Linked DNA regions of Homo sapiens. The protein of the gene in region 2 interacts with the protein of the main gene of each other region in a biochemical or structural test. Each region holds a gene or a part of one and is shown on either strand. Other genes may lie near its edges.

What was found.
Region 1: of the proteins of MBP (region 2) and PRKCB, one has a biochemical effect on the other in vitro, tested with the Homo sapiens proteins (one study listed by BioGRID).
Region 3: of the proteins of MBP (region 2) and PRKCD, one has a biochemical effect on the other in vitro, tested with the Homo sapiens proteins (one study listed by BioGRID).
Region 4: of the proteins of MBP (region 2) and MAP2K1, one has a biochemical effect on the other in vitro, tested with the Homo sapiens proteins (one study listed by BioGRID).
Region 5: of the proteins of MBP (region 2) and IRAK4, one has a biochemical effect on the other in vitro, tested with the Homo sapiens proteins (one large-scale study listed by BioGRID).
Region 6: of the proteins of MBP (region 2) and PTPRA, one has a biochemical effect on the other in vitro, tested with the Homo sapiens proteins (one study listed by BioGRID).
Region 7: of the proteins of MBP (region 2) and STK3, one has a biochemical effect on the other in vitro, tested with the Homo sapiens proteins (one study listed by BioGRID).

The regions. Positions count from the first base shown.
Region 1 is NC_000016.10:24,093,800-24,098,618, forward strand, and holds part of PRKCB (protein kinase C beta type), read left to right. Parts: intron 1-363; coding exon 364-498; intron 499-4,819. UniProt on the Homo sapiens protein: Calcium-activated, phospholipid- and diacylglycerol (DAG)-dependent serine/threonine-protein kinase involved in various cellular processes such as regulation of the B-cell receptor (BCR) signalosome, oxidative stress-induced apoptosis, androgen receptor-dependent transcription regulation, insulin signaling and endothelial cells proliferation.
Region 2 is NC_000018.10:77,125,625-77,130,443, forward strand, and holds part of MBP (Golli-MBP), read right to left. Parts: exon of another isoform or gene 2,736-4,819; intron 2,025-2,735; exon of another isoform or gene 1-2,024. UniProt on the Homo sapiens protein: The classic group of MBP isoforms (isoform 4-isoform 14) are with PLP the most abundant protein components of the myelin membrane in the CNS. They have a role in both its formation and stabilization.
Region 3 is NC_000003.12:53,184,462-53,189,280, reverse strand, and holds part of PRKCD (protein kinase C delta type), read right to left. Parts: intron 4,408-4,819; coding exon 4,307-4,407; intron 3,678-4,306; coding exon 3,581-3,677; intron 3,355-3,580; coding exon 3,254-3,354; intron 3,115-3,253; coding exon 2,941-3,114; intron 2,678-2,940; coding exon 2,586-2,677; intron 1,942-2,585; coding exon 1,879-1,941; intron 562-1,878; coding exon 423-561; intron 224-422; coding exon 35-223; intron 1-34.
Region 4 is NC_000015.10:66,389,912-66,393,411, reverse strand, and holds part of MAP2K1 (dual specificity mitogen-activated protein kinase kinase 1), read right to left. Parts: intron 1-3,500. UniProt on the Homo sapiens protein: Dual specificity protein kinase which acts as an essential component of the MAP kinase signal transduction pathway.
Region 5 is NC_000012.12:43,771,850-43,776,668, reverse strand, and holds part of IRAK4 (interleukin-1 receptor-associated kinase 4), read right to left. Parts: intron 4,490-4,819; coding exon 4,307-4,489; intron 3,758-4,306; coding exon 3,597-3,757; intron 2,705-3,596; coding exon 2,640-2,704; intron 1-2,639.
Region 6 is NC_000020.11:3,029,769-3,034,587, reverse strand, and holds part of PTPRA (receptor-type tyrosine-protein phosphatase alpha isoform 1 precursor), read right to left. Parts: intron 1-4,819. UniProt on the Homo sapiens protein: Tyrosine protein phosphatase which is involved in integrin-mediated focal adhesion formation.
Region 7 is NC_000008.11:98,455,643-98,459,239, forward strand, and holds part of STK3 (serine/threonine-protein kinase 3), read right to left. Parts: intron 1,652-3,597; coding exon of another isoform or gene 1,649-1,651; exon of another isoform or gene 597-1,648; coding exon of another isoform or gene 543-596; exon of another isoform or gene 359-542; coding exon 200-358; 3' UTR 1-199. UniProt on the Homo sapiens protein: Stress-activated, pro-apoptotic kinase which, following caspase-cleavage, enters the nucleus and induces chromatin condensation followed by internucleosomal DNA fragmentation.

The DNA.
Region 1 (4,819 bases), on a different chromosome or scaffold from region 2:
ACCCACCTGTGTGCAGATATACACATGTACACACCCAATTATGCAATTGATATCTGTATTTCTTATAGGCAATAGGAATTCCTGAATATCCTGAACCCTATTAAGACATAAGATAACAAAAGTAGTTAGAACTGTTCTTGTCATAGCCAGTCTAAGACCTCTGCCTGTTTAAGCCACAGGCTGTCAAACAGAAAAAGCTCTCACTCCCTGGAGAGCTAGCCTGGGATGGAAACTGAATATGTTTCTTTCAGCAGCTTGTAATCTTTAAAACTTTCTACCTCCAGGTCTTGTCCTCTTGTACATTTATTCTGCTTGAGAAATTACTACAACCTCCACTGATGTCTTTTCTTTTTCTCTATGCAGTCAGCTGAAAGAATCGGACAAAGACAGAAGACTGTCAGTAGAGATTTGGGATTGGGATTTGACCAGCAGGAATGACTTCATGGGATCTTTGTCCTTTGGGATTTCTGAACTTCAGAAAGCCAGTGTTGATGGCTGGTAAGTAAGATTTTGCCTTGAAAGCTACCATACAGCTTGCTCCATCAAACGCGGGGTCAAGTATGTTTTCCTTTTTCTCCAAAAATTGAAATACTAAAACAGAGTCCCAAAGTGAAGTCTGGTTGATTGGATCTGCCTTGCAGATATGTTTTGTTTGGTCCTTGTACTAAAAACAAAAAAGAAAGAGGCCAGGCCTCGTGTCTGACACCTGTCATCCCAGCACTCTGGGAGGCCGAGGCAGGTAGATCACTTGAGCTCAGGAGTTTAAGACCAGTCTGGGCAACATGGTGAAACCCCATCTCTATCAAAAACATGAAAAATTAGCTGGGCATGGTGGTGTGTGCCTGTAGTTCCAGCTACTCAGGAGGCTGAGATGGGAGGATCACTTGAACCCTGGAGGCAGAGGTTGCAGTGAGCAAGGTGGTCAGAGATTGAGCCACTGCACTCCAGCCTGGGTGACAGAGTGATAAAAAAGAAAGAGAGAGAGAGAGAAGGAATGAAGGAAGGGAGGGAGGAAGGAAGGAAGGAAGGAAGGAAGGAAGGAAGGAAGGAAGGAAAGGAAGAAAAAGGGAAAGGGAAAGGAAGAAGAAAGAAAGAAGAAAGAAAGACGGAAAGCAGGAAGGAAGGAAGGGAGGAAGGGAAGGAGGGACAGAAGGAGGGAGGGAGGGAATTAGTTCTAGTATTTTAAAAATCTGGGGCTAGAAGGCAACAATTGAGAACAGTTGAATAGTTAATGCCCCCTTTAGACAGGACATGGATTTTCTATTTGTCACCGTCCTCACCACTCCCTATTTTATTACATCTGGGCCAATTTACTAAACTACATGATGAGACTGTAACTGCCCAGTGGCTTCTTTGTGCCTGCTGCCCAGACAGAGCCGATTTATCAAGATGGGAGAATTGCAATAGGGAAAGAGTTTTACACACATAGAGCCAGCTAAATGGGAGAACAGAGTTTTTTTATGACTCAAATCAGCCTCCCTGAAAATTTGGAAGCTAGGGCTTTTCAAAGATAGTTTGGCAAGGAGTAGGGTGGCTAGGGAATGGGTGCTGCTGACTGGTTGGGGATGCAGTAATAGGGGTGTGAAAAATGGTCCTCGTGCACTGAGTCCACTTCTGGGTGGGGCCACAGGACTAGTTGGCAGGTCCAGGTGGGGCAGTCTGGTTGTCAGGAAGGCAAAAGCCTGAAAAGACATCTCAAAAGGCCAATCTCAAGTTCTACAGTAGTGATGTTATCTGTAGGAGTAACTTAGGAAGTTGGAAGTGTTGTGAGCTCTGGGATAAAGGCTGATAATAATCCATGTCTACATCTTAGCAGAATTCAGGCTCCTTTCATTCTCCTAACTTGGCAATATTTCATTAGTTTTACAAAGGCAGTTTAGTTTTGGGAAAGGGCTGTCATAATTTAAAATATACAACAAATTTCTTTCAAAGTTAGGTTGGCGGTCTGGTCGGGGTGGAGCCATTGGTTACGAGAAATGCAAAAAAACCTGAAGAGACATCTCAAAAGGCCAGTCTACAATAGTGATCTTATCTGCGGGGGTCATTGGGAAAGTTGCAAATCTTGTGACCTCTGGAATAATGGCTGGTAATCCTTTATGTCTACACCTTAGCAGAATTCAGGCTCCTCTCATCCTCCTAACCTCATGGTCCCTCATTAGCTTTATGAAGGTAGTTTAGTTTTGGGCAAGGGCTATTATCATTTAAAATGTACACTAGGCCGGGCGCAGTGGCTCACCCCTGTATTCCCAGCACTTTGGGAGGCCGAGGTGGGTGGATCACGAGATCGGGAGATCGAGACCATCCTGGCCAACATGGTGAAACCCTGTCTGTACTAAAAATACAAAAATTAGTTGGGTGTGCTGGCATGTGAGGATCACTTGAACCAGGGAGGCGGAGGTTGCAGTGAGCCGAGATCATGCCACTGCACTCCAGCCTGGGTGACAGAGCAAGACTCCATCTCAAAATAAAATGAAATAAAATAAAATAAACACTAAATTTGTCACAAAGTTAACTTGGCCCGAGCCCAGGAAAGCGTAAGGGCAGTTTGGAGGTTAAAGGCAAGCTGGGGGTTGGTTAGATCAAATCTCTTTCACTGACGTCATCATTTTCTCCCTGTTACAATTTCTGCAAAGACAGTTCCATGACTGGCTCCATGGACACTAGAGTGGCTTGTACACTTCACCTGAAAGATATGAGCAACCCACTGTCAGATGGTGTCTGAGAAGCTACCGCTTCCTTGGGAGTCCTTAGCAAGTCTGGCCACAGATCATAGATGTACTGGGGTGTTGTTTTCATAGTCAGCTGCTGTGTCTCCTTTGTCCTGAAGATTTTATTTTGCTCCCTTCCTATGGCAAAAAAAAAAAAAAATATATATATATATATATATATATATATATATATATATATCCTCCAATGTTACCAACAGAGAGGCTGGGTAAGCCCCCTTGGCAACTGTTTCACAGTTAACTGAGTCAAGGAGTCAGAAGAAATAGCTTAACCTGGCACTATAACTTTGGGAGAAGTGGCAATTGGGCTGCTATTACTTCTTTAAGATAAATTGTCTCATATCTGAATTGTCTCATTCAGGACCTTTTCAGCTTCAAGTGAAAGAAAATAAAAATCAAACTGGTTTAGCGAGAAAGAGATGTGTCCTTTGGACCACACACACATCTTTCCTTTCCATTGTTCACCTTATGACTTCCTTGTCTTGGCTCCATGTTTCATCTTAGGCCTTTTTTTTTTTTTTTTTTTTTTGAGACGGAGTCTTGCTCTGTCACCCAGGCTGGAGTGCAGTGGTGTGATCTCGGCTCACTGCAACCTCTGCCTCCTGGGTTCAAGCAATTCTCCTGCCTCAGCCTCCCGAGTAGCTGGGACTACAGGTGCCCGCCACCACGCCCAGCTAATTTTTTGTAATTTTAGTAGAGATGGGGTTTCACCATGTTAGCCAGGATGATCTCGATCTCCTGACCTTGTGATCTGCCTGCCTTGGCCTCCCAAAGTGCTGGGATTGCAGGTGTGAGCCTCCGTGCCCAGCCTATCTTAGGCTTTTCTTGAAACATATATTGAGTGTCCACTAGGTGCTGGTCACTAGAAACACATGGAGGTATAAGACAGACATGACTTCATGGAGCTTAGCTTATGGCAGAGGGTGGGTTGGGGAGATAAACATTGAACAAGGAATTACGCAAATGACAAATCAATGACAACATGATGGAAGATGTGAAGAAGACAGGAGCTGAGAGTTTTGAACCCAAAAGTATCTGAGACAGATTTCAATCAGTTTAGAAAGTTTATTTTGCCAAGGTTAAGGATGTGCCAGTGACACAGACTCAGGAGATCCTGATGACATGGGCCCAAGGTGGATGGGGTACAACTTGCTTTTATACATTTTAGGGAGACGTAAGACATCAATCAATACATGTGAGATTTACATTGGCTCAATCTGGAAAGGCAGGACAACTAAAAGTGGGACGGGGAGGTGCTTCCGGGTCATAGGTAGATTTTACAATTTTCTGATTGGCAATTGGTTGAATGAGCTGTTATCAATAGAAAGGAATGTCTGGGTTACATAAGGAGTTGTGGAGACCAAAGTTTTATCATGAAGATGAAGCCTCCAGGTAGCAGGCTTCAGAGAGACTAGATGGTAATTGTTTCTTATCAGACTTAAGGTCTGTGTTGATGTTAATGCTGGTTGGCTTTTCCTGAATTCCAAAAGGAAGGGGATATAATGAGACATCGTGTCTGACTCTCCCTTCTCATCATGGCCTGAAACAGTTTTTCAGGTTAACTTTGGAATGCCCTTGGCTGAGAGAAGGGGTCCATTTACATGGCTAGGGGGCTTAGAATTTTATTTTGGTTTACAGAATGTACCCCAAAAGAGTTGTGTTAAAGCACAATTCACAAATGGTTAAAAACATAGTTCTCATAAGATAGATAATGGGCATTAATGGGCATTGGCCAAAGATTTCCTTAGCTCACTAAGGAGAAAAGCAGCAGGATGAATGAATGATTCCACAGAAGGTTTGATAAACTGATGTTCGTGTAGTCAGTAGAAAAAGATATGCTGAAATAACTTTGCTCAGTTAAATATAAAACTGACTGATATACAGGACAATAGAATCATAAGCTTTGGGGTTATCTACTAGAATGAAACAAAAAAAAGATTTTGGCCAGGCATGGCGGCTCACACCTGTAATCCCAACACTTTGGGAGGCTGAGGCGGGCGGATCACCTGAGGTCAGGAGTTTGAGACGAGCCTGGCCAACATAGTGAAACCATGTCTCTACTAAAAATACAAAAATTAGCTGGGCATGGTGGC
Region 2 (4,819 bases):
ACACTGTTATTTAGAATTTTGTCCATGTTGATACACAAAGTCTGGGTAGTTTAACTGTTGTAAGTAAATCATAGCGTAAATCTATAGCCCTACTCATGGGGAATTAGTGTGTTTCCCTCCTTTTTTTTTGTATCAAAACTTTTACTCGATAAAATATGTACACCTAGTTCAGTAGTGCTGAGAGGGAATTCATACCCTGAAATACTTATATTAGAAAGCAGGAAAAGTCTCAAATCAATAATCTAAGATCTAATTCAAGAAACCAAAAAAAAAAGAGCTAAATATATACAAACAAAGTAGAAGGAAGGAAATACCCAAGAAAGAAATCCCCAGGCCCACATGGTTTCACCGGAAATTTCTACTAAAACAGTTAAGGAGAAATTTATGGCAATTTTATACAATCTCTTCCAAAAGTTAGAACAAGTGGGAACACTTTCTAACTCATTTTATGAGGCCAGTTATCCTGATACTGAAACTAGCAAAGACTATACAAAAAATGAGAACTATAGATCAATATCTCACAAACACTTAGAGGCAAAAGTCCTCAACAAAATATTAGTAAAGTGAATCTAGCAACACATAAAAAAGTTATATACATGGCTAAGTGGAATATATATCAGATACTCAAGGGTGGGTCAGCATTAGAGAGTCAGTCAATCAACTATCCATCATACCATGAAGTCAAAGAAGAAAAATCTCATGAACATATAAATTGTCCCAGAAAAGACATTTGACAAAATACAACACACATTCATGAATAGACATGGACTATTGACTTGATAAAGAACATCCATAAAAATCCTATAGCTACATCATAATTGGTGGTAAAAACTCAGTGCTTTGCCCTTTAGGTCAGAATAAGGCAAGTTCTTGCAACTCTTATTGAATATAGCACTGGACATTCTAACCAGTACGGTAAGATAAGAAAAAGAAATAAAAAGTATATAAATTGGAAAGAAGAAATAAAACTATCCAATTTGCAGATAACATGATGATCTACATAGACAATCCCAAGAAATCTACCAAAAAAAATCCTCCTAGATCTAATAAGGCAGCTCAGTAGGTTGCAGAATGTGGACTGACACATAAAAATTACTCACAGTTCTACCTACTCCACAATAAACGTGGAAACTGAAGTTAAGACACAATGCCATTTAGAAATGCCCCAAAGAAAATAAAACACTTATGTACACTGTAAAGAAATTTCAGATTCAGAATCTGTGCACTGAAATTTATAAAACATTGATGAAAGAAGTTAAAGAAGACCTAATTACCCATAGAGAGACAACCTGTGATCATGGATTGGAAAACTCAACACAGTAGAACTATTAATTCTCCCTAATCTATACATTTGAAGAAATTCCTATCAAAATCCCAGCAAGGTTTTTGCACCCATAAACGCGCTATTCTAAAATTCATATGGAAAGGCCCAGAACCTACAATAGCTAACATAAGTTTTATAAAGAATAATAAAGTGGAAGGAAGTCACTCCACCTGATTAAAGTTGACTATGCAACTACAGTAATCAAGACAGTGTGCTCTTGGCAGAGAGACTGACATATAGACTAATGGAACAGAATAGAGAACCCAGAAATAGACCCACAGCAATAAGTGGAAACGGTTTTTAGCAAAGGTGCAAAAGCAATTTAATGGAAGAAGGATCACCTTTTCAACTAATAGTCCCGGAGCTATTGGACATTCGTTGGCAAAACCCAAACCAAACCAAAACAAATAAGCCTCAACCTAAACCTCACACCTCATACAAAAATTAACTCAAAATGGAAAATAGGCTTAAGTATAAAATGTGAAACTATAAAATTTGTAGGGAAAAAAGGAGAAAATCTTCGGGAACCTCAGGCTAGGTGAAGACTTAGACTTCACACCAAAAATCAAAATCCAAAAAAGGTAAAATTAATAAACTTGAATTCAACAAAATGTAAAACTTTCTGCAAAGGACTCTGTGAAGAGGGTGAAAAAACAAGATAAAGTGGTAGAAAATAATCACCGAGTGGTAAGGCCAGCATCTAGAAAATATAAAGAATTAGGAAAACTCAGTTGTTAAAACCAAACAATCCAATTAAAAAGTAGGCAAAAGACATGAACAGACTTTTCACTGAGGAGGATACACAGATGGCCATAAGTACATAAAAAGGTCTTGATGTCATTAGCCATCAGGACAATGCAAATTAAACCATCAGGAGATATCACTACACACTTATTAGAAGAGCTAAAATAATAAAAAAAAAAAATAGTGGCAATACCAAATGCTGCCCAGGCTGGGAAGGTCCTGAATCACTCACACACCGCCGGTGGGAATGCAAAATGGTGTAGCCATTCTGGAAAAGAGTTAGCAGTTTCTCATAAAATTAGACATGTGCTAACCATATGACTCAGCAATTGCACTCCTGGGCATTTATCCCAGAGAAATGAAAACTATGTTCACACAAAAACCTGTACAAGAATGTTCACAGCAGCTCTATTTGCAATAACCAAAACCTGGAAATAATCCAAGTGCCCTTCCTGGGTGAACGGTTGAACACACCTTGGTTCATCCAGATGACGGAACACCACTAAGTAATTAAAAAGAAACACCTATGGACATGCTTGCCAACCCGGATGGGTCTCAAGGGAATTGCGTTTAGCGGAAAAAGCCAGTCTCGAAAGGTTGCATAGTGTATGATTCCATTTATAGAGCATTCTTAAAGCGACAAAATTATAGAAAATAGGAACCATACTGTGGTTGCCAGCCTCAGGGAGGGGGAAGGAGGAAGTCAGCTTGGCTATAAAGAGTAGCATCAAGGATCCTGTGATGAAACTCTCCTGTCCTCTGATGTGTTGGTGGTCACATGGTTCTACATGGGTGATAAAATTACAGAGAACTAAGCGCACGTGCATACCACACACACACACACACACACACACACACAGAGCAGTCTATAAAATGAGTACATGTAAACTGGTGGAATCTGAAATCTGAACAAAGTTAATGGGTTGTATCAATGCTCATTTTCTAGTTGTGGCATTGTACTATGGTTTTGTAAGATGTTATTGTTGGGAGAAACTGGTGAAGGGAATTGCATGTGAATCTACATGATCTCAAAACAGGGTTTTACTACATTGCTTCAGTGAATATCCACTGTGTGTGTCTTATGCACACAGACCAGGTTTTCCCTAGAGGAGATACCTAGAAGTGGAATTGTTAGATCTTAGGATACACCCACCTTCACTTTTTCTAGATTATTCTCTAACATCTTTGTTCCTATTTACATTCTAGTCGAACTCATGTGAGGTCTAAGTTTTCTACACCTTCTCTAATATTTGGTATAGTCACAATTTAAATTTTTTTCCAGTACCGTAAAGGTAAAAAAAAATCTTTTTGCCATCTTAGTTTTGAATTCCCTGATTCCCAGAGGGTTAAAGTCCTTTTCTTATTTTATCAGTCCATCTGGGTTTTCTCATTAGTCTCATATTTTACTCTTGAGTGGCTTGTTTCAAATTACCACATTTTAGAACTGTTTCTGTATTCTAGATCCTGGCCTCACATAGGTCTGTTTCTCCTCATCTTTTAGATATCCACCTATTTTTCACAATGGTGACTCAGACCAACGCAGTGCTATTCACAGAGTCCAGAACAAAAGAACATTCGGAATGACATTTTTACGCTTTAATGGCTATTGAGTGTGAGACATTACTAATAGCTTTGGAACATGCACTCGTGGTTGTTGCTGGCATGTGGGAGATGTTGCTGTGGAAGGCAGCTTCAGTCGGCCGGGGAGATCAGCTGCCTTCTGGCTGGCCTGTCCTACAGACGTCCCACAAACCTGGCCAGCCCACCTCTGCATAAGCCATTCCTTGCCATGAGTCTCTAATGTGTATCTCCACCTGCTTCTGTTTCTCTGGATGAAGCCTGTCCACTACAGGTTTTGACAGAGATTTAAAATCTCCTGTAGAGACTATTCCAGCTACTCGCCTGGCATTTCTGCTCAGCTGGCATTAGGGCCTGTGGCATGAGCACTCTTCCCTTAAACAGCTCCAGAGCTTCCTTCACGGGTTCCAATGGGCCAACAGAAGTGTCTTACTACTTAATGGCCACTTATTTAAAATTATCCCAAGAGTAATTAGAGGCCAGGCGCGGTGGCTCATGCCTGTAATCCCAGCACTTTGGGAGGCCGAGGTGGGTGGATCACTTGAGGTCAGGAGTTTGAGACCAGCCTGGCCAACATGGTGAGGCCCCATCTTTACTAAAAAACAAAAACAAACAAAAAAACGCAAAAATCAGCCAGGTGTGGTGGTGCGCCCCTATAGTCCCAGCTACTGGGGAGGCTGAGGCAGGAGACTGTTTTGGATCCAGAAGGTGGAGGTTGCAGTGAGCCGAGATTGCACCACTGCACTCCAGCCTGGGTGACAGAGCAAGACTCTGTCAAAAAAAAAAAAAAGAAAAAGAAAAGGAGTAATTAGAATATTTTCTTTTCTTTTTTATTGACAACTAAGAAAGCTAAGGAGAAGATGATGAACAAAGACGGATGACAGTAGCCTTATGGTGAAATCATTCTTGAAAGGAAACCTGTGTGGGACATCTCTGGGTACACTCACTCATCATTGGGGTGGAATTTTAAAAGGAGGAACGAGGAGCACCTTTGCAAGGCATCCTTCTCACCACGGCGGTGCAGAGCAGCAGTCAGGCGCTGGTGCAGACTCCCCGGATGGAATCCCGCCTCTTCTTGTGTGCCCTTAGAGTAACTTAACCTCTCTGGGCCTTGTTTCCTCAACAGTAAAAAATGAAGATATGAATAGGATGGTGACATCCAGTGAGGGCATC
Region 3 (4,819 bases), on a different chromosome or scaffold from region 2:
CCCAGACCAGCCCAGCCCAGCCCAGGGCCTCCACCTTCTCCAGGATGTCCTTGGACTCCTTGGTGATCCAGCGGGGATAATGTGGCGTGTCCACACGGATGGACTCGAAGAGTTCATCCTCATCATCACCATGGAAGGGGGACTGGCCAATGAGCATCTCGTACAGAAGGACCCCGAAAGACCACCAGTCCACAGAGAATGTGTACTTCAGGCCCTGTAGGATCTGGCGGTGGGGAGAGCAGCAGGTCAGCAGGAGCTGAGGTGCTGAGGCTGAGAGGGGCCCCTGGGCACGAAGCCTAGCCAGGCCGCCTCAGCCTATGGGCTTTGGCTTGGACATCACTGCCCTTGGGAATCCTTCCCTGGCCCACCGTGGGGAGGCAAGGTGCCTGACTGAGCGGGGGGCTGGAAGGGTATCGGCTCACCTCAGGGGCGATATAGTCAGGGGTGCCGCAGAAGGTGCTGGCCCGGCTCTCCCCGAATATGTTCTCTTTGCACATCCCAAAGTCGGCAATCTTGATGTGGCCATCCCGGTCCAGCAGCACATTGTCCAGTTTGAGGTCCCTAAGGACAGGGGACAGGTAAGAGTCAGCAGGGGACATTTCTTCTCCTTCCAACCCTGCCCCCCATGTCCTAATTTTCAGCCGTATTAGTCCAGGACTGTCCCCAAGGGTACAAGGGAATGAGAAACAGAAAAGGAAGCAGAAGGAGAAAGAGATCCTAAAAACAGGTGCTTCTTGCAAGTCCCCTACTGTGTGCTAAACGCTGGGCATACACTGCCCTACTTCCTGAAGCCCAAATGGGGCTCAAACAGGTGATGTCACTCGCCCAGGGTCCCCTAGCAGTCAGCAGCAGAAGTGACCCCCAGGTTCAGGTTTGTCTACTTCCCACAGGCAGAGACCATGTCTATATTTAGTAATTAGTCATTTGAGTATATACTTAATGCATATGGGAACTAGAAATGGCAAACAGTACAAAGTCTACCTTCCACTGAGCTCAATCATGAGGCTCTCCTTAGAGCAATTCTAGGCGTGGACAAGCATATGGCAGCATGCAGCTCGCTCCCACCTTTTTTTTTTTTTTTTTTTTTTTTTTTGAGACACAGTCTCATTCTGTCACACAGGCTGGAGTGCAGTGGCATGATCTCAGCTCACTGCAACCTCCGCCTCCCGGGTTCAAGCAATTCTCCTGCCTCAGCCTCCTGAGTAGCTGAGATTACAGGCATCCACCACCATGCCCAGCTAACTTTTGTATTTTTTAGTAGAGACAGGGTTTCACCATGTTGGTCAGGCTGGTCTCGAACTCCTGACCTCGGGTGATCTGCCCACCTTGGCCTCCCAAAGTGCTGGGATTACAGGCGTGAGCCATCGCGCTCAGTCTCCCTCCCACGTTTTAAAGGCTGAATGCTAATATTCGATATACACTTTCCCACAGGTTGTTTTTCCACTTAACAACATATCTTGGCATTATCCCACATCAGTATACAGAGCCTGACCTCAGCCTTTTTGGTGGGTGTACAGTTCCCACCATAGGATGGAATCATAACTTATTAGATGAGACTTTATGGAAGGAGTCCCTTCTGGCAGAAGCTTAGATGACTCGATGGGGCTTCAGAGCGAGACTGACGGCTCCAAGGATGGGTGGGGCGATGGTGTCAAATATGAGCAGTGAGTTCCTAGTTCCTGAAGCTGAGCCAGCCTCAAATGGTGGCCACAGGAATGCTAACACCAGGGTGGGAGGCATAGGCAAATACCCAGCTAAAGATTGATTTCCAGCAGAGAAGGAACTGGAGTTGGGGGGATCCTGCTTGGAGCATTTCAGAAGATATGATGGGGCTGGAGCCTCCCCTCCCAAGAGCCCCCGCTGCCCTCACCCCCGCACCTGTAAATGATGCCCTTGCTGTGTAGAAACTGCAGTCCACACATTATCTCAGCGGCATAAAACCTGGGCAAGAGAGAGGGATAAAGTGTTCCGGGATCTCTGCCGAGCAGCCTCTGCTTCTCCTCGGGCCCTCAACCCCACTTCCAGGAGCAAGAAATGCTGCAAATAACTCCATGGACCACCTGAGCATGATCAAGTACATCTTGTATCAGGCAAGTGGGGGCTGGCAGCCCAGGCAGAAAGTTCTGAAGGGAAAGCTCTCAGTGAGCCAATTCTCTAAGAGTGTATGCATTTACATGCATGTACATATGTGTTTGCATGCATGCACACACACACACACACATACACGGTTAGTTTGGGGTAAGGGGCATGTGAATGGGGAGAAGCAGGTCTGGGGGCCACGCACCAGGGTCCTGTGTCCTGTGTCATGCAGGACCACCATTTGCAAGGCTGCCCTGGCTGTGGCCCACGGAGCGGCCAGGACCCAGAGTATTTGCGCTGCGCACCCAGCCGCAGTTCACTTGCCACCCATGGCTTCCTGTGTGGTGCCGACCCAGGCTACCCCCACATCTCCCCAGTTGCCGCTCTAGCCCAGGCTGGCTTTTCTAGGGAGAGGGAAGAAGGCATGGAGGGCAGACTGGAAGTGGGCTCTGAGCCAGTAGCCCTTCCTCCACACTGGGCCCTTCCCCACCATGGCCCTTACGTACGTGGCACGGTAGAGTTCAAAGCGGCCTTTGTCCTGGATGTGGTACATCAGGTCCCCCCCGTTGAGGAACTCCATCACAAAGAACAGGTGGTCCTGGGGTGGGAAGGGTGGTGAGCAGGGGTGAGGAATAGGCAGGAGGCTCCCTCACTGAGGGCCACTGGGGCCAAGCCCCAACAGGAAACAGCAGGGACAGGCCCTGGCTGAGGTGGACGACTCTGCCCTGGGAGGCATGAGGGGGGAAAGCATGGCCCTGCCTTAAGTGGCCTGAAGGGGAGACACAGCCCTGACTGAGGGGGGCTGAGGAGCTGTGGGACATGGCTGTGGCATGGGGTGGTGACGGCAGGAGGCCCGGGCACCTTGGTCTGGAAGGTGCAGATGAGGTGGGTGAGAAAGGGATTCTCTGCGGCAAGTGTCAGCACCCGCTTCTCAACCATGGTGCACTCCACGTCGTCGTCGATCAGGACCACATCCTTCTTGAGGGCCTTGATGGCAAAGTACTCTCCTCTGCCCTTCAGCTCTCCAAGCAGCACCTGATGGGGAGACACGGGTGCTGAGCAGGTGAGGACGGGGCAGGGGCCACAGCCCGATTCACAGACTCCCACCTCAGCCACCTAAGCGGGAAGAAGCCAGGGTGGGGTGGGAAGCAGGTGCCCGGCTCACAGCCCTCACCTTCCCGAAGCTGCCTTTGCCCAGGACCTTGTGGAAGATGAAGTTGTTGATGTTGCACTTGCTGCTGCCCTCCCAGATCTTGCCGTAGGTCCCACTGTTGTCTGCCCGAGAGATGGCACCTCCTCAGATCGGGGTCTCAGTCTACACAACTCCCCTCCCCCGGGGCCTGGGGTAGGCTGGGGGAAGGGGCCTCAGAGAGGAAGGGGCTCGCTCCCCAGGACCGGTGGTTCCTTCCATGTCTCACTTGACAATGGAAGGGAGGACAGTCCCCTTTCTTTGGCCTCAGGGGGAATAAAAACCGTAATGGGGCAATGGACCCAGCTTCACCTTGCATGTCCTCCCCAGCAACTCCGGTCTTCTTCTCGAAACCCTGATATATCCCAACAGGCTCTGAGGAGGCTGAGTCTGATCTCCGGGAGGCTCTCTGGGGAGGGAGCAGAGGTGGGGGGCCAGATGGTCAGACCATTATCAGAACTCCCAGCCCAGAAGGAAGACTCCCAGGTATAACTCCACCCTTAACACCAAGAGGAGACAACAGGGGCACAGCCCAGGCCCCCTACTCGGGCTGCGTGTACACACACGCACTCTTCCAGGAGCCCAGAGAAGCCTTGGTGGTCTGAAAGGCTCTGATTACAAACAGAAGTTTTGTAAACGGAACCCTACCTTCCCAACCACTCACTCGATAGATTTTATTTGACTATTTAGCTTCATTTCTGATTGATTCTAAAATTTTACCTTTAGGTTTTGTGGCATCCCTCAAGCCCCCCCCACATACAAACGTCCACACCCAAAGTCTTAGTTCAAAGTGTTCCAACACCCACTCCTGTGGTCCCCAGGTTCACCCTCAAGTAAAGAACTGCCTGAATAATGAATTTCTTATGAAAAAAAGCCCCCCTCCCTCTGCTGCCTAAATTCTTGAGTTGCATCTTCCCGAAGTAGAGTCCTGGGTCTAAATATATCCTGGCTGTCTGTGGCTCCCCAGCAGTGGCTGTAAGCCTTGACTGTCCCTGACCCCACTGCCCTGTGTCCAGGGTCCCCATGGCACCTGCCCACCTGGGTGACTTGGTTCAAGGCCTCAGCCAAAAGCTTCTGGTTGATGCCGCAGAGGTTGGCCACCTTCTCCCGGCATTTATGGTGCACATTCATGCCGCAGTCTGGGGTGAGGGAGAAGCGGGGCTGTCAGTCTCAGAGCTCAGCCAAGGGCAGGGGGCAGTGTAGGAGAGGCGCAGGAGAGCAAGAGAAAGGAGGGCTTCAGTGGGGTCTGCTGGGTTCCAGTTTCTAGGAAAACATTGATCTGAAGCCATCATAAATACTTCGATCTCTCTCTCTCTCTCTCTTTTTTTTTTTTTTTTGAGATGGAGTTTCCCTCTTATTGCCCAGGCTGGAGTGCAGTGGCGCAATCTCGGCTCACCGCAACCTCTGCCTCCTGGGTTCAAGGGATTCTCCTGCCTCAGCCTCCTGAGTAGCTGGGATTACAGGCATGCGCCACCATATCCGGCTAATTTTGTATTTTTAGTAGAGACGGGGTTTTTCCATGTTAGCCAGGCTGGTCTCGAACTCCCCACC
Region 4 (3,500 bases), on a different chromosome or scaffold from region 2:
AAGGTCAGGACTTGGAGACCAGCCTGAGCAATATAATGAAACCCTGTCTCTACTAAAAATATAAAAATTAGCTGGGCATGGTGTCAGGCACCTGTAATCCCAGCTACTCAGGAGGCTAAGGCAGGAGAATTGCTTGAACCTTGTGGGGAGGGGTTGCAGTGAGCCAGGATTGCAACACTGCACTCCAGCCTGGGCAACAGAGTGAGACTCGGTCTCAAAAAAAAAAAAAGAGAGAGAGAAAGAGATAACATGCCTTATCCTGGAAGGAGAGACAATGTACCCTAAGACCCAGCAATTCCACTTCTGAGTACATTCCACAGGAAACTCTCTCACAACATCCAAAGGAGACAAGGATGTGCAAGGATGGGCATGGTCATGACTGTTTGAGGCAGCAAGGGGTTGGGAAACAACAAAGATGTCTAATTCTAGAGAAATAAATAAGTAAAATGTGGCAGGCAAACATGACTGCTCTACAACCAAGAGAAATAATGAACTAGACACATATTGTATAGCATCATGAATAGAGCTCAAAACAAAATTGGTTAAAAAAAGAAACTAAGGCCAGGCATGGTGGCTCACGCCTGTAAGCCCAACACTTTGGGAGGCTGAGGCAGGCGGATCATCTGAGGTCAGGAGTTCGAGACCAGCCTGACCAACATGGTGAAACCCTGTCTCTACTAAAAATACAAAATTAGCCAGGCACGGTGGCACATGCCTGTAATCCCAGCTACTCAGGAGGCTGAGGCAGGAGAATAGCTTGAACCTGGGGGGCGGAGGTTGCGGTGAGCCGAGATCATGCCATTGCACTCCAGCCTGGGCAACAAGAGCAAAACTCCATCTCAAAAAAAAAAAAAAAAGAAAAGAAAAGAAAACAAAGAAGAAACTGATATAAAATTTAGGGATGGTCATTGCTTCTGTTCAAATACTCCTGGTGCACCAGCACAGTGGCTCATACCTATAATTTCAGCACTTTGGGAAGATGAGGTGGGCAGATCGCTTGAGCCCAAGAGTTCAAGACCAGCCTGAGCAACATGGTGAAACCCCATCTCTACAAAACAATCAAAACTTAGCAGGGCGTGGTGGCACGCACCATTATACTCCAGCCTGGGCAGTGGGAGCGAAACCCTTTCTTAAAAAAAAAAAAAAAAAAAAAAAACCCAAAAAAAACACACAAATATTCGTGGTTCTCCCCCTTCCAAAAAGGTCACTGCCCTCCTTGAAGGTCAACATGGCCACATGATTTGCTCTGGCCAAAGAAATGGCAGCAAAAATGACAAGGCTCACCTCTAGGCAAAACTTTAAGAGCCTGAATGTAGCTCTTCACAAGATTCCCTCCTCATGTAGGTATACTTGAGAGACGATGCCTCGATCAGCCTGGATCCCTAAAGGACTCCAATCTACAGAGCCTCCCACTGACCTGAAAGTGTGTTAAATTACTGAGATTTTGTGGTTGTTACCTCAACATAACCTATTCTATCCTGTCTATGAAATGCAGATTTGTAGCACAATAACATTTTAGAATCCTAAGCAGATACATACAAAACCATCCTTCTACTTCCCAAGGGTATACACATAACCAGACTAACAGGTGGAATTATAAAACCATATAAATATCTTAGAATGGTTGAGTGGGTGACTAAAACAAAAGAAAATGGGGAAAAAAGGAATGAGCATAAAGGGGAAAAGAAAAGGAAAAGACATAAAAAGGTTTATTAAACCCGTTGTGCAAATATTAGAAATTTCATTCACTCACTGACTCAACAAACATCTATGGACCTATTATGTGCCAGAACTATTTTGGGTGTACTTACAGAGTGGTGAGTCAAAAAAAGGCAGTGCAGGCTGGGCACAGTGGCTCACGCCTGTAATCCCAGCACTTTGGGATCACGAGATCAGGAGATCGAGACCATCCTGGCTAACATGGTGAAACCCCATCTCTACTAAAAATACAAAAAATTAGCTGGACGCAGTGGTGGGCGCCTGTAGTCCCAGCTACTTGGGAGGCTGAGGCAGGAGAATGGCATGAACCTGGGAGGCGGAGCTTGCAGTGAGCCGAGGTAGTGCCACTGCATTCCAGCCTGGGCGATAGAGCGAGACTCCGTCTCAAAAAACAAAAAGGCAGTGCTGTGCTTAAAGTTTATAGTGTACAGGAGAGATAAATATTAAGAACACCCCAATGAAAAATTACAATGATTAAGTCTTATTAAAAGCTCAGGTGAGCGCCAGGCACAGTAGTACCCACCTATAGTCCCAGCTACTCAAGAGGCTGAGGTGGTAGAATCACTGGAGTCCAGGAGTTCAAGAACCAGCCTGGGCAACATACCAAGACCCCCATACCAAAAAAAAAAAAAAAAGCAGCAGCTCAGGTGACATGACAAAGAGGGACCACATTCCTCTGAGATGCTTATAAACATCTCAGAGGAAGTGACATTTAGGCAAATAGGTGAAGACTGCTTCCTGCCTACCTAGGGAAGGAGGAGTGATTCATTCCAGGCAAAGGGAACAGCATGTACAGAGGCCTGCAGTGCGTATAGACCATCCCATAGAGGAAGTGAAAGAGGACTAGTGTGGTGGAAGAAAGGAGTGGCAGGAAATGTGGTTAAAGAGATTGGTGGGAGGGGGTGGTGGGGACAACAGGCAGATCACTCAGTCTCATAGTCCAATATAAGGAGTTTGGATTTTGTGTAACTGCAATAGAACCAGAAGAACATTTTAAACAGAGGAACAATATTATCTCATTATCTCATTCTAACACTTAAGACCCTAGTAATATGCTCACATGTTTCTGCAAAATACACAAAAGAAAGCTATTTTTGCATGATTTTTCTTTGAGGACCCCTACAACTTGCATCAACTTCAGGTCCCGTATTACCCAACTCCATCTCTGAACTGGGTAAGGGCTATGTTAGAGGTAAGCACAGGTGCCAAGGGAAAAGCAACCTTGCCAATTTGGTACCAAGAGTTCTTTACTGTCAAAATGGATTTTCTTCCTCTTTAGTTCACATTGTCTGATAACGTTCAAAATTGTGCCCTGGTCTAATCACAGAAATCATGAAAGCAACAGAATTCTTTCTGCTGGTAGCCCAAGATAGGGAACATTTTGCTTGAGGAACACTCTCAGAAGTGAAAGATGAAGATGTGTACAGCTTTCCCTCTCATTAGTGCTATGAAACACAGGGAAACAGTCCCTGTTTGTCTTGGGCAGCCTACACAAAGATGCCTCCTATTGTAACACAGCAATGAGTCATAGAGGTAGATGCAGATGGTACAAAAAACCAAACTAGGGAGAGTTGATTGTCCAGAAGCAAAGGCACCTTAACACATAATCTACCACCATGAATGAAAATCACCTTCCAGTTTCCTTTGGTCCAACACTTAGGCAGTAACAAAGGCACCAGCAGCCAACAGCTTTGGAAGTTTACTATGTACTACCTCATTTAATCTTCACAACTATGCTAAGTAGGTTCTATCATTAGCCCCATTTTTGCAGATGAAAAAAA
Region 5 (4,819 bases), on a different chromosome or scaffold from region 2:
AGCCTTACTGAGCCTCAGCTCCTTTATCTGCTAAATGCAGAAAACAGTATGTAATATGGATGCTGAGACAATTAAATGAGCAAATGTAAACATGACAGCCTAGAAACGTATCTGGCACATGATAAGTGTTTTATTATTTAAGTGCTTATTCATTTTGTTCATTCAAAATGATCCACAATTCTAGCAGTTCATTATATCAATTTCTTCTAGTCTCATAAATATTTGAAGAAGTGCAAATTAAAACAGTAAGTGTCCCATTTTCCACCAAACTGGCACATTTTAAACATGAGTAGTTAACGTTTGCTGAATTTATACTATAAACGAGGCAGTGTGGCAAGTGATTTATCTGTTTTATTTAATCCTCACAATAACTTAAGTAAGTACTATTGTCCCATTTTATAGATGAGAAAATTAACGAATAGAAAGTTAAAAAACTTGGCCAAGTTCATTCTGCTAGTAAGATCCAGAGACTGGCACTTATTAAAAAATTGTAATAATAGGCCGGGCGCAGTGACTCACGCCTGTATTCCCAGCCGAGGCAGGCAGATCACGACGTCAGATCTAAACCATCCTGGCTAACGTGGTGAAACCCCGTCTCTACTAAAAATACAAAAACAAAATTAGCCGGGCATGGTGACGGTCGCCTGTAGTCCCAGCTACTCTGGAGGCTGAGGCGGGAGAATGGCGTGAACCTGGGAGGCGGAGCTTGCAGTGAGCCAAGATCGCACCACTGCATTCCAGCCTGGGCAACAGAGCGAGATTCCGTCTCAAAAAAAAAAAAAAAAAAAAAAAAAGTAATGATATTAAATGAAGGTAAGGAACCAGTAAAGTTTGAAATTGTAATACATTGCTGGTAGTAACTTATCTCAAAAGCCATTTGAATGTGTATTTAGAAAGTCTTTAAAAAGTTCATGCATTCCTACCTAGTAATTCTTTTTCTAGGACTTTACCCTAGATGATAAAGTAAGTATAACTGCATTTAAAGATTTATGTGCAAAGAACTTTAAAGAAGCTTTATTTTTAATACTGAAAATTAGAAACAAACCTAGCTATGGTTAAATAAAATATGATTTTCACATATGCTAGACTGTTGTACAATAATTTAAAATGTTTTCAAATTATTTTTAGTGACATGGGAAAATGCTACACACACATCATGAAGCAAGTATATAAAAATATTAGCAGTGGTTATCTCTGAGTGATATATTTGAGAGATGGTTTGTATTATTAAGTTCCGGGATACATGTACAGAATGTGCAGGTTTGTCATACAGGTAAACGTGTACCATAGTGGTTTGCTGCACCTATCAACCCATCACCTACGTATTAAGTCCTGCATGCATATAGGCTTGTATATTTTAAAAATGTTTTCCTGTATTTTCCAGATGACCTACTGTGAACAAGTTACTTTTAGAATTGGAGAGTAGGGGTAGGAGTGAAGAAGACAAATCCTGAAAAAAAAAGTTTGATCTTTTTTCAGCATGTATCATTTTTACCGTGCATAAATCAATTCTAGTCTATTCTTCTTACTTGAGGTTAGGTAACTATGATTGGTGATTTACAGCAGTGGGTTTAATGGGTATAATTTGGTAAATCCCATTACGATTCAGATCTAAAGTTCAGGCTCCGCAATCAAACAGATCTGGATTTCAATCCCATCTCTAACACTTACTGGCTATGTGATCTTGGACAAGCTATTTAATGTTTCTAAATCTCAGTTAACAAACAAAATGGGCAGTTGTAACAGTTGTAAGGGTTAGACAGACAATGCACATAAAGTACATAGCACAATGTCTGGCATGTTGCACACACTCAAATATCAATCACTATTAATCACTATAATAATTAGAATACATTTCCTACTTTGTCCCTCCTACTTTTCCTGATGATGTCCAACAATTTTCCAGCACACAGGATCAATGCCTTCTAAGCATCCTTACAGATAACATGACTCTAGTTGCTCTATAGATGCTACTTTATATATAAGGGCCTATTACTCTATAGATAGTTGTTTTTAAGTATCTCTACAATTGATCTCTCATGAATTCTGGAAGTGGAAAACATGATAATGAAGGACATGATAGTGAAATTTCACGTAACTTTGTTGTGACTTAAAATAATGACTGCGGCCAGGCGTGGTCACGCCTGTAATCCCAGCTCTTTGGGAGGCTGAGGCAGGTGGATCACAAGGTCAGGAGATCGAGACTATCCTGGCTAACACGGTGAAACCCCGTCTCTACTAAAAATACAGAAAAAAATTAGCCAGGCATGGTGGCACACGCCTGTAGGTCCAGCTACTCGGGAGGCTGAGGCAGGAGAATCGCTTGAACCTGGGAGGCAGAGGTTGCAGTGAGCCGAGATCATGCCACTGCACTCCAGCTTGGGCAAAAGAGCGAGACTCTGTCTCAAAAAAAATAAATAAATAAAAATGACTGCTATTTAATCTCCAGGCATATGAGTATATGTAATCATAGAATTATGGAGCCAAAAGTACTTTCAATTTCTCTAATCTAAACACTTTATTTTAATTTCATATATGTGCAAACATCACTAGTTCATGGCATACTCTAGAGTGAACCAGGTTCTTTACTCCTTGTCTTTTTTCTTTCCACTACACCGCACTGCCAGATTAAGACTTACTTTGCCATTACTTTTATTTCTTGATCAAACTGCTGTTTCAGTTCTTCAGTAGTAATGTCAACCATCTGAAAAAATAAAATATACAATGTAATACTACACAATTCTAAGGTTCCTAATGCTCAGAGGGATCAAGAGATCAGCTGGCTCATCTCCCTTTCTTTAAAACAATAGTGTATTATTCTCCCAATTCTACAGAATAACTGAGATCTAGAAATACTAGTGATTTGCTCAAGGCCCATGGCTGGTTAGTGGAATGAAAAATATATATAAATTTCACTGAGTTGTGGAAACAAAATGAAATAACACGAAATTTCACTACACAAAAAAATTTGAAAAAAATTCTAGGAAACAGAAAACATAAGCAATTTAGGTGCAAAATGGAAAAAAAAACCCTACAAAAGCCCTGCAACATATATGACAAAGAGTGACTATCTTTATCACATACATATGCATTCTATTGATATTTTTAGGCTCTAACAAAAGATTTAGAATATAACAAGTAAGTAAAAGGTAAACACCTCAGTAGAAATGGCAACAAAGGACACAGATAAAAAAAATTTTAATGTTTTTTCTTAATGTATACTTCCTAAATTTTATTTTTAAATGGGAAAAGTAATGCAAACAAGGTTTTTTAAAAATAGTTTTCCTGGTATCTTACCATTTTAATCTTGATTACACATGAAGCACTATGTGGAGCAGGGCTTCTCAACTTTAGTTTGTGAATCTCCCAAAATTGTATGTATGATCTTGTGTACATGGACATAACCACATTTTTCTAGGGGTAGGGTCCATAGTGTTCAACAGATTTTAAAATTTTAAGAACTACTATTTAGAATGATGTTTATTTAAAGAAAATACATACTGAAATAATGTATTTCCTAAAGATTAACTTTAAAACCTATTATAGGGCACACTATGAAGCAACTCTTTCTTTTTATTCCTGAAAATATAACTTACTGCTGCAAGCTTCTTCACTGCCACAGTTGTGTTATTTACGTAGCCTTTATATACAACTCCAAATCCTCCCTCTCCCATTTTATTACCACCAACAGAAATGGGTCGTTCATCAAAGTTATTTGTGACATTCTTCAATTCATAAAATGAAAAACTGTGAAAACCTATGTCAAAATAAGAAAAACATGCTTAAATTTTAAAAATTCGTTTTAATAATTATAATATTTTCTCATTTGAAGATTTCACATATATGCAAATATTTATGATTTTGAATTAGACAAGATGAGAGAAGATAAAACCATTTCTAAAATACAAATTATAAGTTTTTCTTGAGAACTCTGTTTGGTGATCCTACCCTCTGAACACTGTAGTCACCCACCCAAAATTCTAGTCACACATTTGAGTGGGTCTAGTCTACCTACCCAAAACTCTAGTCACATATTTTATTTTAAAAAGTGACCTTTCCAAGTTATGTAAATATTTACTTATTTTTTTTCATAGCTTCTCTGGTTGTTTGCATGTCCTATTGCCTCTAATCACTGATTAATACAATGAAGATGGTTCTTAATATATCAGGAGGAAACAACTCACAAAAGAGCTATTGCCAGTGTGCCTGTGATTGCTGCACAAACAAAAGAGCAAGAGCTTTCTTTTAAAGCACTGGTAGTCTTAATGACAAATCCCTAGTGGAAAGCACTGAAAATGTTACTTACGTGTATCACTAACTTCTAAACTTTTATTTTCTGGACTTGAGGAGTCAGGTGGCATATAGCTTTGTTCAAGATTCTGCACAGGTGTCATCAATGTCCTGTCTTTGTCACAGAAAGGCATCTGTTTTTGCTGAACTGTTATAGCTTCTTTAGAAGGTAGTGTATTAGCAGTTTTGGGAACAGCATCTAACAAATGAAGTAAGATACAAGTGGTTTTTCAGTAAGAAAAAGTGGTTGTGAAAAAGTTAAACTAGAAACTTGGTTCATTTAATATCATTCCAGTTTCTACAGGTTGGTCTCATATTCTCACAGCACACACAAGAAGCTGCCTAGTAAGAATCTGTAAGTTATAATGAAGATGGGTAAAGAGAGTAAGGCAGTGTTTTCAAACAGTGATCCATGAGCCACCTATATCAGAGGCACTGAAGCACCTGTTTAAGAATATAGACCTTAAACCCAATTCCAGAATTCTGATTACATAGATTTGGAACAGACCCTAGGAAACTACATGTTTAA
Region 6 (4,819 bases), on a different chromosome or scaffold from region 2:
TCTCTTCAACCAGAACAGCCAAAAAAAAAAAAAAATTCTCATTAAGGCTCACCTCGATCAGGCATTATATTAGTTTTTATGGCACTGGTGGGTGGAATGGATTTTGCTACCACAGTGCCTTCTCAACACTGCTTTACACAGTGTCTCAGCTGGGATGAAGACTGGGCCTTTAAAACCATCAGAACCATAAGGTCCCCATGGGTGTGAGCCACAGTGTGTGTGTGCTGGAGGAATTGAGCATGATCTCTCAGACAGAAATACATATCAAGTCTAGGGACTAGGTATCAACACTAAGAGTCTCATTTTTTTTTTCTTTTTTGAGAGAGTCTTGCTCTGTCGCCCAGGCTGGAGTGCAGTGGCATGATCTTGACTTACTGCAGCCTCCGCCTCCCAGTTTCAAGTGATTCTCCCACCCCAGACTCCCAAGTAGCTGGGACTACAAGTGTGCGCCACCATGCCTAGCTAATTTTTGTATTTTTAGTAGAGACAGGGTTTCACCATGTCGGCCAGGCTGGTCTCAAACTCTTGACCTCAGGTGATCCACCTGCCTCAGCCTCCCAAAGTGGTAGGATTACACAGGCGTGAGCCACCACATCTGATCAAAAGTCTCTAAATTTTGTATACATGGGCGGATTTTCTCTCAAGATCTCTGGAAGACCAAAGAGGATTTTTTTTTTTTTTTTTTTTGAGATGGAGCTTCACTCTTATTGCCCACGCTGGAGTGCAATGGCGCGATCTTGGCTCACTGCAACCTCCGGCTCCCGGGTTCAAGTGATTCTCCTGCCTCAGCCTCCCCAGTAGCTGAGATTACAGGCATGCATCACCATGCCCGCTAATTTTGTATTTTTAGTAGAGACGGGGTTTCTCCATGTTGGTCAGGCTGGTCTCGAACTCCCGACCTCAGGTGATCCACCCGCCTCGGCCTCCCAAAGTGCTGGGATTACAGGCGTGAGCTGCCGCACCTGGCCTCAAACAGGATTTGTAAGACAAGGAGTGACAATGATTTATATTTTCAAAAGGACCAGCAGCTGCCATTTGAAAAACTAAAAGTGGGTTAGGATGAGAGCAGGAGGACCAGTTGCCAGGCCACTGCAGACGAGGCTGCGCATATGAGTCATGCCCACAGTCCCACGGGCAAGCAGTGAGAGACGAGGGCTTGTTCAGATGACAGCAGTTACGCTGGAGAAAAGTGGGGAGGCTCTGCCTGTATCAGGACTCAGTGGCAGACTGGATGTGAGGGGTGAGGAGAGGGGAGGAAGGAAGGTAACTCCCGGATTTTAGACATGAGCAACTGGGCAGAAGGTGGTACTATTTATTTAGATGGCTAAGAGTGGGGTGGACTGGTGTCGGGGGAAGGAGGAAATCAGGAGCCCACATTGGGAAGGGGGACAGGTGACTGGCCTAGAGACGCAGATTGAGGATCCCTGGCATATGGGTTGTACTTAAAGCCATAGGACTGGCTGAGATCCTGAAGGGCTAGTGTGTCAAAAGAAAACAGAGTGGGCTAGCGCCCGAGTCTAGTATACTCCAATGTTTTAGAGGAGGAGGTCACAAAGAAATAACAAAGGAGCTGCCAGGTTAGTGAGTGGGGTGATGCTACGGAAGTAAGTGTTCTGAGGAAGAGGAGGGAGGTACTGACTCTTTCAAATGCTGCTGTAAGGACAAAAAAAAAAAAATCAGAAAAGAGAAATGACCTTTGGATTTGGCAAGAGGACAGTCACTGGTGATCTTGACTAAAGCAGTCCCAGTGGGGCCAAGCCTGGAAGGAACAGAGCGAACAGAGAACTTGCAGGGAGAAAGCCAACTCTTTTTTTTTTTTTTTTGAGATGGAGTCTCACTCTGCCACCAGGCTGGAATGCAGTGGCGCGATCTTGGCTCATTGCAACCTTCAGCTCCCTGGTTCAAACGATTCTCCTGCCTCAGCCTCCCGAGTAGCTGGGATCACAGGCATGCACCATCGCGCCCAGCTAATTTTTGTATTTTTAGTAGAGATGGGGTTTTGCCATGTTGGCCAGGCTGGTCTCGATCTCCTGACTTTGTGATCCGCCCACCTTGGCCTCCCAAAGTGCTGGGATTACAGGCGTGAGCCACCGCGCCCGGCCGAAAGCCAACTCTTTAAAGGAGTTTTGCTGGGAAGGGGTGCAGAGAAATAGGATAGTAGGTGGAAGGGAAAGTGAGATTAGCAGATTTTTTGTTTTTAAAAGATAGGAAATGTAACATGTATAGGCTGATGAGAGTAGTGGTTAAAGAGGGGAACTGCTGATGGAGGTGGGAGAGAAGATGGTTATAGCAGCAACATCCCTGAGCAGGCAGGACGGAATGGGGCCAAGAGCACAGTGGACAGGTGGATTGAGAGATGCAGAAACCCTTTTCCACTGTAACAAGAGAGAATAGAGTTGGTACAGATTTGAAGAGGCTGGTTGTTTGGGGGTGGGAGGATGACAGTGTTCTTGTCTGATTTCTTGGAGAAGAATGAGGCCAGGTCACAAGCTAAGGTGTGAGTATGATGGGACAGGCAAGAGCAGATGCTGGAGGTTTCAGGAAGAAAAGAAAGAGCAATAGCATTGCTAGGTGGCACCAATTACCTCTATGAGATTTGTGGTCATGAGTTCAGTGTGAGAGCATTTGGCACTGTTTTGTGTTTTTGCCCAGTGATGTTTGCTATATCAGATAGAGGCATATAACTGGGTTTTACTAGAGAGTTTGCTATGAAAGTAAGAAAGCATGAGGGAATAAGGAAAGGTAATAATGACATACCACAAAAACTCAAATCAGAAAACTCAAACGCTCAAAAACAGAACTCAAAAACACACAGAGTAAGGAGGAAGGTGAGGACATGTTCGGTGTGACTGATGTTGAGAAAGTGGAGGCATCAATAACTCTAAGGACTTGATGAAGACAAAAATGACTGGAATAAAAGAGAATACTGAGGTGGGAGGAAGGAGGCAGTAAACAGGGCGGATGCCTTGTTGAGATTCCAAGGGCAGTGCAGATACAGGGCAGATGGTGACTTGACCATGGGATCAGGTGGCTGAGGAAGCTGAGGAATAGAAAGATTGAGGATAGATGGATCATCCACATGGTGACTGATGCCTCCAAAAGCAGAGTCAGGAACAGGGGCTCAAAAGGAGCAGTAAGCCAGGTGTTAAAGTCATCAGTGGGTGAGGGACAGAAGATGGGGAATGGGGATTCAAGACCAGTAGAAGAAAAGCTGGGGACTGGAGTTTCATCTCAGATTTGTGTGTTCACGTTACGGCCTCTAGATAATAGCATCTTAAAGAAGTGAAACAGGGAAGGTTTTCTGTCTTTTCTCCTACTTTGTCTTTCCACCAGATAGCATGAAGTCTCTTATGTCTTATGTCTCTTATGAGGTCTAAGGCGGACATGGTGATGGGGACACACAGCTTTGTGAAGACTAATGCTATCAGGTTTCACTATGCTTTAGAGAAGCAGGATGAGGCCTAGGGTTGGGCTAGGCCTAGGGTTGACCCAGCATGGGAGTTCCTGGCACTGCTCTGTCTGCCCAGGCTGATGATGGTCCAAGCTGCAGCTGCTGAGGGAACCCAGGCATCCTGGTGGACCCTTTTGATTAAAATAGAGCAGAAGGAGGCCAGGCGCAATGGCTCATGCCTGTAATCTTAGCACTCTGGGAGGCTAAGGCGGGCGGATCACTTGGGGTCAGGAGTTTGAGACCAGCATGGCCAACATGACGAAACCCTGTCTCTACTATGGAAATTAGCTGGGCATGGTAGTGCATGCCTGTAATCCCAGCTACTCGGGAGGCTGAGGTGGGAGAATCACTTGAACCCTGGAGGTGGAGGTTGCAGCGAGCTGAGATTGTGCCACTGCACTCCAGTCTGGTGGACAGAGTGAGACTCCATCTCAAAAAAAAAAAAAAAAAAAAAAAAAAAGCAGAGGGAGATAATTAAAAATTTTTAATTCCTTCGAGATTTTAATTTGTAAGTACAGAATTTATATTATGGGATCGAATTTTTTTCTCTGGGAACTTAATATTGTAGGTGAGGATGGTAGTGTCACTGTATAAGTGTAGGCACCTTTCATTGCATCATTTAGGCTTAGTGCGTTAATTACTTCTGGGAGCTACACTTGACAACATGAATGGAACAGAAAGTGAACTTGGGGGCCAGTGAGGCCTTGTAAAGAACATCACTAACATCCTGTTCCAATCCACTCAGAAGCTTTTGAGGGCAAGCACTACTGTCTGCTTCACTGGCCTAGGAAGACAGAGCATAAGCTACAGTGGAAGGCAGAGGGAGAGGCCTCACTCAACAGGCAGCAGAATTTGTGTGCGCACGACTCTTCTCCCCACCGCCACACACATGAAATGCTTCCTGCCCCCTGCCCTTTACTCTCACTAGGTCCTTTTCAAGGATGGAAGAGCCTGCATCTGACTGGACAGAGGCGGAGATGTTCACTGGGCCACATTTTATCACAGGGCAGTGGGCCGAGATGGTCCTTGTGCTCGTGGTTCCAGCTCTTCGGCCTGCTCTTTGGTCCTGCCCATCACAGATCTGAAGGGCAGGGGTGCAGAAGGAACCACAGGTAGGGCCCTGGTCTGATCTGCAGGTTCCATCACGACTGATCAGAGACGGCAGGAACAGGCACCTAGCTCCTGAGAACACAGTGGCTCATTTCCTAAACAGCTTTTGTTACTCAGGTGTGTGCTTCCTTGAGTGCAAAGCCAAGCACCTTAACCGAACCTCCCACCTCATCAGTATTGTTATTAATGATGATGAAGACACTGGGCGCAGTGGCTCACGCCTGTAATCCCAGCACTTTGGGAGGCTGAGTCAGGCAG
Region 7 (3,597 bases), on a different chromosome or scaffold from region 2:
TCATCTTAGAGTGAATGCACAGCAGATACAACTGTCAATTCTGCCTTTTGGGAATTTACCTGGGCATGTACCATTGTCACTTTTTGACCTCTGCCTAATTGTAGGGCAAAATCTTAGGATTAAAAATATCCAAATATTCCTTCAATTCCTAGTGGTTTCTTGGTCTCCAGAATAGTTAAAAACAGAGAGGAAATTAGACTCAAAAGTTTTGCTGCCTTCTTTTCTTTGCATCCATCGCATCCAGAATGGGCTGTCTTTTCGCAGTGTATCTCTGACGAAGTTCTTCTATCTCCCGTTCCATCATGGGGTCCAGTGCTTTTAACCGCATCTGTAGTTCTTCTAAACTTAGATTTTTCAACTAGATACAGAAAGAAAGATACCAATACAATGAAATTATCCACATTATCCACAATCAATACAATGAAATTAGACTTTAATGTCTAATGAGTTTTAACATAAATATTTCAGCAAATTCTTTACATCATCTTTGAAGTATAGTTCAACAATTAAAACAGGAATTTCTTCCTTGAAGAACTCAGAGGTCATATCTTGCAAGAACCTCCAGTAATCTGCAATGAAGCAATCCGATCCTCTGCCTTTAATAAAGGGCAAATGAGAAAAATACGCTGATGGAATTTGTAAAAAGGTACAAAGACAAATCCACCACTGCCAACAAACAGATTTTCAGAATATGTTCCAGGTATATTCACTCTAACTTTTTACATCTTTGCCAGCTACTGAGTGCTACAATAATCATGAACACTTGCAGAGATCACTCAAGAATGTGACAAGACTGAATAAAGGTTAAATTAACCATTCTATCCTCCATTTTACTAAATGCTTAATAAAGAAGATGACTGTGGTAGGGGGCGGGAAGTAAGGCTGAATAGGCCTGGTGGGGCCCCAAAAGCAGGAAGCCATGATCAATTCTGGAGTAGGACAGTTATGTAAGAGTAATCCAGATTTGGTTTTCTTTTCTTCTTCTTCTTCTTCTTATTTTTTTTGACACAAGGTCTCAAACTTCTGGGCTCAAGAGATCCTCCTGCCTTGACCTCCTCAGTAGCTGGGATGTGCCACTGCACCCAGCTCAGGCTTGGTTTTAAAATGATAAAACTTGCAACTTACTTTTTGTTTTAAGAAGATAATTGCCTTTGGTTATTTTATGAGTCAAGCTAGGAAAAATACTCATTACTTATAGTCATCCAAAGTAGCATTTCTCAGCAGATCCTTTTACTCGCCATCCCTGGCCCTATCGTGACTTCTGCTTCCAAAAACCAAATTCACTCTTAGCTGAAAAAGACTCTGAGGATACTGAAAAGAATGAGTCATAGACTCTCTGAAGGAAATTCAAAAAAGGAGTTCCAAAAATATTTTGAGAAATGACAGTGTTATGGAGAAGAGTATGCAGGCTTCCATGATGATGACTTTGAAGGTGAATGCCACTCACTTCGGTGCATAAGAAGTTCTGGTATGTATATTAATAATCAGCCCTGTTATTTTGTAGTCATATGTCATGAAAGAACCTAGCTTTTAATATTATGCCATAAAACATACATTTATATATCATATGTAGTATTATACACTTTCTTCATTGATTTTTAATCCAAGTAGTGATCTTGCATCTGTTACATGCTCAGTGCTGTTCAAATCACTGTGGAGATACAGAATAAGACAAACAGGGAAACTCCAAACTTTGAACTGTACACATCGGTAATGGCCACATTGAAAGGCCAATGTATACCACACAACCACATTTCCCAAGAAAGACATGCCCAACTATGTCTATGTAGGATCCAGTTCCACTTCTGTGTTCTTCAACATCATCTCTATTTCAGCCCATGTTAATCTTTCCCATTTCTAAATTTCTATGTAACACTCATAATTTAAACAACACAATTTAGTATTTGATTCTAAATCATGTACTATTTTATAATTGATTTTTATGCATGAGTTTCATGTCCCTAGATATTCCAAAAAATACTTAGACTTTAGAGACTGTACATACACCAAGAAACTATCCTACTATACTGCAAATAACATGACGTAAACGTAGATAGATAAATATGAATAAGAATATATGACCCAAAGGAGTGGGTTACTCTAAGATCAGAAGAACTAACATATTATATAAAGCAAACAATTATCATTACTTTAATTCTGAATTAAGATATTCCTGTAAATATCTTGTACTACTTTTACTGGGGCAAACTGCCAATAGGTTTATAAATATTGTATTGCAGTAATAGACTGAACTCAGAAAAAGAAGCTACTTAGAAGAAAAATTTTCTTCCTTTAACAGATTTTTATATTATCAATGCGTAAAATTTGTGAAAAACAGGTCTGTGATATTAGAGAAACATTATCTAACATTATTAAGGAATTAGGTGTTCATGTAAGTAAATTAATGAAGTACCTAAATCTTAGTTCTTTAAGTGATAAAACTTTGTCTCAATATCACATACACACACATATACACACACACACACACACACATGTGCACACACACATGTATTTACATATGCTCTTTTTTGGTTCTATGTGACTTTTAGGATTTTTTTCTAATTTTGTGAAAAATGATGTTGGTATTTTGATAGGAAATGCACTGAATCTGTAGACTGCTTTGGGCAGTAAGGTCTTTTTCATAATATTGATTCTTCCAATCCATGAGCATGGGATGTATTTCCATTTGTGTCATGCATGATTTCTTTCAACAGTGTTTTGTAGTTCTCCCTGTAGGGATCTTTTACCTTCTTGGCTAAGTATATTCCTAGGTAATTTATTGCTATTACTATTATTATTATTAATTATTTTACAGCTATTGTAAAAGGGGTTGAGTTCTTGATTTGATTCTCAGCTTGGTCACTGTTGGTATATAATAGTGCTACTGATTTGTACCACTGATTTTGTAACCTAAGACTTTACTGATATGGTTTGGCTGTGTCCCCACCCAAATCTCATCATGAATTGTAATCCTCATAATCCCCATGTGTCTAGGGAGACACCTGGTGGGAGGTGATTGGATCATGGGGGCAGTTTCCCTCCATGCTGTTCTAGTGATAGTGAGTGAGTTCTCACAATATCTGATGGTTTTATAAGGGGCCCTTCCTTCTTCAATCTCACTCTGCTCTCCCCTCTCACCACGTGAGAAGGTCCAGGCTTGCTTCACCTTCACCTTCCACCATGATTGTAAATTTCCTGAGGCCTCCCCAGTCACATGGAACTGTGAATCAATACACCTCTTTCCTTTGTAAATTACCCAGTCTTGGGTATTTCTTTATAGTAGTGTGAAAATGGACTAACACAGTTAACTGGCACTGAGGTAGTGGGGCGCTGCTATAAAGATACTTGAAATGTGGAAGCAACTTTGGAACTGGGTAATGGGCAGAGGTTGGAATAGTTTGGAGGGCTCAGAAGAAGTTAAGAAGATGTGGGAAAGTTTGGAACTTCCTAGAGACTTGTTGAATGGTTTTGGCCAAAATGCTGTTAGTGATATGGACAATGAAGCCGTGGCTGAAGTGGTCTCAGACGAACATGAGAAACTCACTGGCAACTGGAGCAAAGATCACTCTTGCTATGCTTTAGCAAAGGGACTGGTGG